Regions from separate parts of the Homo sapiens genome. Here region 1 is linked to region 2. Evidence: fine-mapped expression QTL. A gene starts in region 2. The other region holds a variant in brackets. All regions are shown on one strand. Distances are between the middles of the regions.

The links.
Region 1: its variant is fine-mapped to the expression of RNF44 in whole blood (INTERVAL, PIP 0.96).

What each region holds. Positions count from the first base shown.
Region 1 is chr5:176,406,316-176,411,827 of GRCh38, forward strand. It overlaps CLTB (clathrin light chain B), which reads right to left. Exons shown (of 6, transcript NM_007097.5): 2 at 3,942-3,988. It also overlaps a transcript of ARL10 not described here. Among named protein-coding and RNA genes, the nearest start is that of CLTB, 7.5 kb to the right of the region's middle. The variant G/A (reference allele first, on the strand shown) is at 2,516.
Region 2 is chr5:176,535,258-176,540,257 of GRCh38, forward strand. It overlaps RNF44 (ring finger protein 44), which reads right to left and starts at 2,145. Exons shown (of 11, transcript NM_014901.5): 1 at 1,683-2,145. It overlaps LOC124901143 (a long non-coding RNA gene), which reads left to right and starts at 2,672. Exons shown (of 2, transcript XR_007059071.1): 1 at 2,672-2,866; 2 at 3,801-4,040. RefSeq lists silencers at 1,639-1,828, 1,909-2,168 and enhancers at 2,279-2,718, 2,959-3,138.

The DNA of each region.
Region 1 (5,512 bases), 130 kb before region 2:
GGCTTGTCTCAGTCTAGCTCCCTAGAATCCCTCTCCTGAGGGGCCCCTCTGCTGGGCCCACCCATGAGAACCTCTGTGGACCCACACCAGCCAAGCGTGTGCTGCGACTCCAGGGATGGCCAAGAGGATGAGCCACATCCTTCTTTGGGATTGATCAGCTAAATCTAAGCTAAGCTGAGCTGCTGATTCCTCTAAGAAGCTAAAAGGAGGATGATGGGAGTATTAGGGGAAAGGAGAGAGGATCTGTGCAGAGGTGGGGAGGCGGAGTCCTGCAGGGCCCTTCTGTCCCTGCCCCTGGCTGTGCCAAATGGAACTGGAATAGTTGTGGGCAGGCTCGTCCTTAGGCTGTATTGGCAACTGGGTTTGTAGCTGGACCCGCTGGTGGTGCACGGGCTGCAGAAAAGAGGAAGAAAGGAAGCACAAAAGCTCTGTCTGGGATCCTTGAAAGTGTTGGGTGTGCACAGGCCAAGGTTTCTCCTCCCCCTGCAGGTGCAGGCCAGACCTGCTATGCTCAATCCTAAAGAGCTGGGGCTTTCCACCTGTGACCCAGGCGCTGTGGCCAGCCAGTTCCAGCAACAGAGTCGTAATGCAAAGCACACCGGGTCGGAGCCCAGGAGATGTAGGCAAGCTGGGGCTTTGCCACTAAGCTTCTGAGTGATTCAGCTCATCTGTGACCCTGCCCTGCCTGTAAGGATTCTCGGATGGCACTGATGTGATATGATTTACAAATAAACACACCTGCTGTGATTCTTAGTAACAGTGAGAATAAGAGTTCTCACTCAGATTGGAAAGGAGGCCCCGGGCTCCTCAGATTCACCCACAGCTCACCCACGGCTGACAGGTCGGGAGGGAGAAGGCGGGGGGCCAAGTCAAATGGGGTGCACTCCAGAAGTGGCTGATTTCCTGGGTGACTTTGCATTCACCACTTCACCTCTCTGAGCTTCGTGATGCTAATCTTTAGGAAAGGTAAATGATCCAGCTCAGAGTGTTCTAGGTACTTTCTTTTTTGAGACAAAGTCTCGCTCTGTCGTCCAGGCTGGAGTGCAGTGTGCGATCTCAGCTCACTGCAACCTCTGCCTCTGGGTTCAAGCAGTTCTCCTGCCTCAGCCTCCTGAGTAGCTGGGATTACAGGCAACCACTACCCTGCCTAGCCAATTTTTGTATTTTTAGTAGAGACAGGGTTTCTCCATGTTGGCCAGGCTGGTCTTGAACTCCTGACCTCAAATGATCTACCCACCTCAGCCTCCCACTGCTGGGATTACAGGCGTGAGCCACTGTGCCCGGCCATGTTCTACATACTTCTGTGGTTCCAAGCATATCTCCAGCTCCAGGTGCACTTTAGGACACAGAACTGTGGGGTCAAGCAAAGTCCTTCTGAATGTGGCCAGAGAGCCTGGGCAGCCTAAGTCTTAATGATCTACCAAGCTGCACAGAAGCAAATCCTCATTCTTTGACTCCCTCGGGCCCAACTAGACATGAAGCTGCTGAAGTCCTAGAGATGGACTTTTCCAGCTTGCTGATAGTTGAGTAATTTTCCAGAAACAGGACTTGGCCAGTCTCCCTGCATAAGGTACCAGCCCATCCCTCTTACATAAGAAAATAAGTATTGTTTACTCCCCCAGAGGATTCAAGAAGCCAGCTCCTCCAGGGCGGGGCTCAGAAGATCCCACAGCCAAAGACCCCAGGATCAAGGCTCTTTGGCCCAGTCTGAGTGGGAATGAAGGCTCTGAGGGGAGGTTTAGCCCCACCAGGCATCTGGCTGGGGGGCCGAGGTGAGGACTATTGCATGCCTCTGTGGTCTGAGTTCCCTCAGAGTACTAAAATGGATTTGTGTGTATGCAAGGGGAAGAGAGTTAGGTGGGTGCGGACAGAAGCAGTCTTAACTAGAAATACACTTACTAGGGTTTTCCTCTTTTTTTTTTTTTTAAGACTGTCATGCCGGGCACGGTGGCTCGTGCCTGTAATCCCAGCACTTTGGGAGGCCGAGGTGGGTGGATCACTTGAAGGTCAGGAGTTCGAGACCAGCCTGGCCAACATGATGAAACACCATCTCTACTAAAAATACAAAAGATTAGCTAGGCGTGGTGGCGGGTGCCTGTAATCCCAGCTACTCAGGAGGCTGAGGCAGGAGAATCACTTGAACTCAGGAGGCGGAGGCTGCAGGGAGCCGAGATCGTGCCATTGCACTCCAGCCTGGGCAATAAGAGCAAAACTCCATCTCAGGAAAAAAAAAAAAAAAAGACTCACCCAGGCTAAGTGTAGTAGTGTAATCATAGTCACTGCAGCCTGGACCTCCCCAGCTCAAGCTGTAATCCTCCCACCTAAGACTACTGAGTAGCTGGGACTATAGGCACACACTATTGCCCCAGCTAATTTTTCATTTTTTGCAGAAATGGGGTCTTACTATGTTGCCCAGTTTGGTCTCAAACTCCTGGATTCACATGATCTTCTCACTTTGGCCTCCCAAAATCTGGGATTACAGGCGTAAGCCGCCGTGCCCGGCTGGGTTTTCCTC[G/A]TTTTTTGCAGGATAAAAACACTTAAAGAATTTGTAAACAACCCAGTGAAAGTGAATGCCCCTTTCTTATCCCCATCCCACCCCACCCTTGGGGCTAACCATTGTTAACAGCTGGTACACATCCTTTCAGATATGTAGTGCAAACCTTTAGTTTTATTTTTTTGAGATAGAGTTTTGCTCTTGTTGCCCAGGCTGGAGTGCAGTGGCGTGATCTCGGCTCACCGCAACCTCCCACTCCCGGATTCAAGCTATTCTCCTGCCTCAGCCTCCCAAGTAGTTAGGATTATAGGCTTGTGCCACCACACCCAGCTAATTTTGTATTTTTAGTAGAGGTGCGGTTTCACCGTGTTAGCCAGGATGGTCTCAATCTTCCAACCTCATGATCCACCTGCCTTGGCCTCCCAAAGTGCTAGGGTTACAGGCATGAGCCACCACGCCCAGCCCAAACATATTTTTAAAATTGAAAAAAAAAAAAAAAAAAAGGACCATACTGTGTATATTATTCTGCAAGCTGCTTTTTCCACTTAATATATTGTGGACATCTTTTCACGTCAATACAGGAAGATCTGATTGCCCTTTTTTTTTTTTTTTTTTTTTTTTCAGACAGAGTTTCACTCTCATCTCCCAGGCTGGAGAGCAATGGCACAATCTCAGCTCACTGCAACCTCCACCTTCTGGGTTCAAGTGATTCTCCTGCCTTAGCCTCCCGAGTAGCTGGAATTACAGGCACCTGCCACAATGACTGGCTAATTTTCTGTATTTTTAGTAAAGACGGGGTTTCACTATGTTGGCCAGGCTGGTCTTGAACTCTGACCTCACGTGATCCACCCACCTCAGCCTCCCAAAGTGCTGGGATTACAGGCGTCAGCCACTGCACCCGGCCCTGATTGCCCTTTTTAACAACAGCCTGGTTTTCTAATCTATCTATTCAGTTCCCTGATGCTGGACACTTAGGTTGTCTCCAAATTGTCTGCCATTATAAATAACCCTGCAAAGAATCTGGGTGGCCTTGTCCAATTATTTCCTTTGGGAAAATTCTGGAAGTGGAATCTCTGGATCAAAGGGCCCGCCCTGTGTGTGGAGATGGCCTGGGTTCTGCCTCCCGTCAGTGGTGAGGGAAGGCCTTGCGCTGCCTTCATCTCATGCTGCTGTGGGCCACTTGACCTCTCCCTCCCAAAACCAGACATCACCATGGGCAACCTGAGGCTACTGCCCATCAATCTCGATCTCTAGTGGTCCTTATTCTTCTTCCCTGCCCTCTACATGACAAAAAAAATTCCAAAAACCTTTCTCTATGTTTCCACCCCAATGCATCAGACATAATGAACAGGAGAACCTGGAGCTGTAAGCCTACAACAATGAGGCTTTAGGTTACTGAGACCAGGGCTGTTGGTCCTTACCACTGCTGAGACAGAGCCTTGCTTACCTGAAACACATCTCCATTGACTGTGGTCCCCATGTCCTCAGAACCAGCTGGAAAGAGAACAAGGAGATAGCATTACTCACTGTTTAGCTTATAGCAAGCAGGAAATGGTCCTACATTAGCCCCTCAACCCAAACTCTGTGTATACCCATGTATATATCGACCCACATGCAAACAGACATAATGGATATATATATAACTTAGGCTCAATCCCACCCCTGACTGTTTATAAAGCCTCTCACAGCCATTAGTACATTTTATGTTCACCACAGCCCTGCAATGAAATTGTTGTCAACCCATTTTACAGATACTCAAGCTGAGGCTCAGAGAGGCCATGCTCAAAATCACCCAGCCAGTAATAGCTCCTTACCTACCTGAAATCACTGACCCCTGGCCATGGCTGGGAATGGCCAGATTACCTGTGAAGCCTGTGCCTGGTGAGTAGGCTGAGCTGCTGTAAGCTCAGGGCAGGGGCTACACTGGATAAGGAAGAGAGGGGCCTACGCGTCTCTGCCTGTCCCTGAGGCGCCTTGAGCAACTGCTCCTCCTGGGTGAGCAGGAGTTGCAGTTCCCACCAGAAGCACCTGGCATATTTTTTCTCTTTGTGCCCCTCCCAGAAGGAATTAAGTTTGCCCTCAGCAGTGACTCCTCCCTGTCCCTTTCCTTGACATTTGATTAGTCACAAATTCCTGGGGCTTCTGCTACAACACTGACATTCACAGTTGCCCTCCACTCTCTCCCGCAGCTCAGCCCCAGCCCAGGACCTCACCACCTTGCACCTGCACAACTGCTTTGCCCGCTAGGGGCAAACACCTGGGAAGACATAACTGTGTCTCTTTCTCTTCTCCTGTGTCTTTCCCAGAGACTTGCATGCACCTGTGACTTTGCAGGTGCTCAATAATTATTTGTTGAATAAACAAGTAAATACATGCATGAAAGAAAGACAACGACTGCATGGCTTTTGCCCATTCACAGGCCCCCTTGACTCCAGCCTCTCCCATCCCTCTTTCAAACCAATTGCCAGGGCTGACAGTCTGTAAAACATGCACTTACCTGTGCCTCTCCTCTGACTCAAAATGTCATGAAAACAAACTCCAAAGAAATCCACTTCCCATGGACCACAGTGGCCTATAGCGCCTACTCCTGCCTTGGGGACTTTGCAGGTGCTGTTCCCTCTGCCTGGAAGGCTGCTCCCTCACTCCCTTCAGCTTCTGCTCAAATGCTGCCTAATTAAAGGCCTCCCTGACCACACCCCCATCCACCCCTTGGGCACCCCTTCCTATTCCTCCTGCAGTATTAAGCGCACTTACTACAGCCTGCTGTGTTTATTTGTGTATGTGTTTATTATCTGTCTTCCCCCAACAAACAGACCCTCCATGAGGGTGTGGACTTGGTTTCATCCATGATGAGGCCCACCTACAACAGTCCCTGGAACATAACAAGGACTCAATAAATATTTGCCAGATAAGTACATCTAACCCTGGAACATGAGGATCTCTACAATCTGGCCCTGCCCATTCCTGACTCACTTCCCACCAGCCCATCCCACAAACCCTAAATTCTGGTTTCCTCCT
Region 2 (5,000 bases):
CTCCAAGGCAACAGCAGAAGCAACTTGTAAAGTTTGAACTTAGCTTGGGTGTGAATGATCATTATTAGCGAATACGACACGCTGACCTCCATTTCCAACCTCAAGCAGAGCTTGAAGGGTGCCACTTCCGGGGCAGCAGGCAGATATGCCACTCTAGGGGAATACCTCAGCTGGTAAGAGTGGATCCTGGTTCTTTAAGCCCTGCCAGGAACAGGGGTGGCGTAGAAGGGTTACACCCACTTCATGGCTGAGAAAACTGGAGCCGAGAGAAAGGAAGTAAGTTACTCTAGGCCACAAGACCAGAGAGAACGGAATTGGTCCTAGTTGGCCTCCTAGGCCCAAACTCCCCCAAGCCATAACTCCTGTGGCATCAGTAGCTGGAGGAAATCACCTAATCCCGAGTCTCCAAGCCATACAGGAGGCTGGGAGAGCACTCTCTTTCAGGCACCCATCTTTAGCTCTGTAGTACAGAGAAGCAAGCAAGGCCCAGAGTTGGAGCTAGCAACTTGCTCAAGGTCAAATAGCAAGGGTGGCCAGGTGGCCTCCCCTAACAACTGCTCTGCCCGTCCACATCTCCATGCTGTCCTATCACGGAGCTCTGTGTGAACGGGTCTTGAGAGTCCCGTCGCTGAGCCCCGTCCGCCCCAGGCACGCAATGCATTTTGCAGTTAACATAACCCCCCACACCCACCCATGAGAGCCGGCCAACCCCTTAAGTCCAGTGCCCCAAGCACCTACCCTGACCTTGGTCTAAGAGCCCCAGGGATCTGTTTGCAGGAAGAGACACTCCCTTTTGCAGATAAAAACAAAGTCAGACCCTGGGGGCATGAGCAGACTCAGCCAGGAAGAGAAGCCCCCCTTCCTACTTCCCCACACCCCACCCGAAACAAGCAGGCTCTGCCCAGCGCAAGCAGAGCTTCCCAACGTGTGGTGCCTGGAGGCCGCTGAGGGCCGGACCACCAGACTAGGAGAGAAGACTCCCTAGTGACCTTGGTCAAGGAAATCCCTTTGCTTCTGAGCGCCTCAGTTGGCACAGCTATAAAATGGGGGTGGAAATCTTTCCTTCCCACAGCGCCCAAATAAAACCAGAAGAGTCCAGAAGAAACCAGGTGGTCACACTAGTGGGGGAGGAAACCAGGGTCCTGGGGAAGGGGGGGCTCCCCAACGCGGGCCAAGTGCACGCTGTGGGGCTCTGGGAAGCTTACCCAGCCACCCCTCCCCAGGCATAGTGCTGGGGGGCCGAGGCGCGGACACAGCCCCGAGAGGGGCCTCCCTCGTCCGCTTCCTACTCTTTTGCGCCGCTCTCGGAGGGACACCGGGGGCGGGAGGCGAGACTGCAGCGCAGGGGCCAGAACGCTGCGACTTTAAGAGCCGAGGATCCCGGACCATGTGCTCGGCGTGAGACAAAAGCAACAACAAAGGAAGTGGCGGCCGCAGGGGGAGGGGGGCGGCTCCTTCCTCTCCAACCGCAGCGCTCAGCTGCAGGAGAGGGGAGATACGGCCCGGCCACGGGGGGCCTTGGGGGGGGTTCCTGATCCCTGGGGTCTCGCTGCCCGCAGTCTGGACCGCCCGTGATTAACCCCTACGGAGCCACCTAGATCACGGCCCCCATTCCCAGGGGAGGGGAACAGAAGGTCCATGGGTGGGGGAATAGGAAGTTGGGGGCCCTGGCACCGACTCACCTTTGGCCGCCCGGCCACACGTTGACTCCTTTGTTCCCGATCTAGGACGGCCAAACTGGGCAGGGGGCGGGGGAGGGGGGGGGTGCCTGTCTGGATCCTTTAAGAGCTCCCGCCCTGCGGAACAATGTGCTCCCCTCCCCACCCCCGGGTCCGGGGGCAGCCCGGCTCCTTCCGGGGCCTCTCTCTTTGTTGTCCGCCCGACGGCGTCTGCCTCGCGAGGCCCACGCGCGATCAGTCTCTCTCGGCCCAGGCCCTCAGGGAGCGGGAGGCGGCGCAGGACGCAGCTGGGTCTGCGCGGCAGCCGGCGGCTGGCCCTTTAAGAACTGTCCGCGGCGGCAGCGGAATGTAACAAACCCCACATTTGATTCACAACATTCGAAGCGGCGGGGTCGCGCGCCAGACGGGAGGGGGCTCGCGGGGGCGCGCCGGGAGGCTCCGGCAAACAGTAGCCCGCTGCAAGCCCGCAGGGGCCCCGCCCCGCGCCGGGAGCTCCGCCCTGAGAGCCAATCACTCGCCGCGACCACGCACGTGACTAGTGGGCCACCATCTTGAATTTTTTTAACCTCCTCCTCGCCCCCACCTTCGCACTTAAAGGGACCGCAGCCATAGTCAAAAGCAAGGGGCGGGGCCGCATATCCTGACATAAAGATGGGGAGACCCCAGGGTGGGCAAAACCGATCGGCTGCAACTCGAACTTGCTATGCAAACTCGCTAACTACTCGCGCCTCTGAGGCTCAGTTTCCCTGCCGAAGAAATGGGTCCCGCCAGGAGAACCGGCAGTACGGACTTACTGTGTCATGGTCCCCTCCTCGGGGACAGGGTGCCGCCTGAGATACTGAAGTGCAATGGGTCTGACCTCTGACGGGGCGAGAGCGGCCCAAGTGGTTATGCTGGCTCTAACAACCCTGGGCCGGCCACCTTCCCGGAGATGACGTCACCCCCAAGAGCTGCAGCACCGCGCTGACATCATGGCCCGGCCGCCCCACTTCTCCTTGTTTATACTACACGGCGTCTTTAAAAAGCTGGTACGGCCCAGATTGCCCAACAGACCAATGGCGGACCACCCATGCAAACGAGCTAACGTCTGCCGGGCAAGGAGATTGGCCCTGCTCGCGCTGACGTCACAGAGACATTTAACCGCCACGCCCCCAGCGTGGCGGTGGAGGAAGAGAGGCGGGGAACAGGTTGTAGTTTAAAGCAAAAGTGCAGGCGCTGGGCGCTCTAGCTGCTAGGCTGGGCTTGAGAGTTTGGTGTCCCCGCGGAGACCTCCCTAGCCAGGGAAACTGGGAACTAAGCCCAGTGAAGCGTCTATACTTTAGTTTTCTATTCCTCTCAGCAGCTATGAGACGGAGGGATTACTATAGCCAGTTCATTTTACAGATGGGGAAAGTGAGGGCCTTCCCTTACTCCAGATCACACAACTAGAAGTGTGGCGGAGCAGGAGTGTGAACCTAATCCAAAGCCGAGCCTCGTTCTCCTTTGCCTCGAAGCCCACCCACCCGGGCAAAATTTATACAAAATGGGGTATTACCTCCACCACAATTATATAAGCAGAAAATCAGTAATTTGCTAAATATCCAAGAGCTGGAACAGGTCGAATAATGAATATTGGGTGCATGCATATAATCAATAACGACTCTTGGGCAGTTACCACAAAGAGGCAGCTGGAGGCGACACGGGGCTATCTCCAAGACAGCCATAAACAAGGCGCCAATGCAAAATGTTAACATCTGTTAACCTGTGTGGTGGGCCATGGGGCAGGGGGATGGGGGGCTCATTTTCTATGCTGCTTTGGTATATTTCGTAATCCTAAATTTTATATAAAAATTGAAACCAAGATGCTGAACAGTTCTAACAGTATGTATCAGGTTTCTTTAATTGGACATATGCCACATCTGCATATATTTCTGGAAGGGTATACAGGAAACTGATTAACAATTGTCCTTAGGGAGAACTGGAAGGGAGAAGTTGGGTCAGTAGGATAGACTATTGTATATATTGCACATTAGCTCTTTTTTAAAAACCCTATGCATTATAACCCACTGAAATTTTTAAAGAAAGCTATTATAAAGACTATGTCTTAAGTCTTTTAAGCCAGAAAACCTTTTGTTCCCTTAGAATCAGAAACCCCCTTTCAGCTTGGGGAACAGACATGTTTATGGCAATGTTTAGACCAGCAATGATCGTATCACTGTGCAACACAATGACTGAAGATGGAACTGAGCCGGCTGTCGGCAGATCTCTAAGCAACACAAGAGCAAGGTCATGATGCAGTGCTATCGATGCTCCCTGGAACGCCAAACTCTATCCATCACAGTTAAAAATTACATGTGCATGAGAATAAGTGTGGCTATACAAGGTTATGTCTTTACCCAGTTCCTTATCATCAACTGTTCCTTTACCTCCAATGTCTCCTTCAACCTTTTGTTTTCCCCACCACATAAAAGCAATTTGAAAACCCTCCCCATGGCCGGGCACGGTGGCTCACGCCTGTAATCCCAGCACTTTGGGAGATCCAGGCGGGCAGATCACAAGGTCAGGAGTTTGAGACCAGCCTGACCAACATGGTGAAACCCTGTCTCCACAAAAAATACAAAAATTAGCTGGGCATGGTGGCATGCACTTGTAGTCCCAGCCACTTAGGAGGCTGAGGCAGGAGAATCGCTTGAACATGGGAAGTGGAGGTTGCAGTGAGCTGAGATTGCGCCACTGCACTCCAGCCTGGGTGACAGAGCGAGACTCCGTCTTAAAAAAAAAAAAACCCTCCCCACATTTGAAGGTACCTACATATTTGTTAGATTACTGCCTGCCTGTCCTTATGGATAGGGCCTACAGTGGCTCCCTACTGCCAACTGCATGGAAGCCTGGTTTTGGGGCTGCACTTAACAAGCTCTTCCTGCCCGAACTTTTCAGGCTCGCCTCTCCCCAGTCCCTCCTCTCACACCATGGTGGTGCTTCGTCTGGCTTTCTCTCCCTGCCACCTTCCTGCCTTTGCTCAGGCTAGACTGCCTGCCTGGGATGCCCTCTCTTTTCCTTTCTGCCAATCCATTTCACTTTTCGGCGGTTTGAAGCTCTGTTCCTAACTCACCTTTTACAGGAAGCTGCTTGTGACATCTCCAGCTGTGCTGAATCCCCCATTTTTGAACGCAGAGCTAGATGCACCCCAGCCTTTACCTCATGCCATTTAATTTGCACACAGTCCTGTCACAATCGCTGTGTGTCTCACTCAGTAATTCCCCTCCTGGCTGAAGGGGTTTGGCTTTTTTAAGTGCGCAGACGTCCAGCCTTCACTGGCATATACGGGTACCCCAGCCTCAT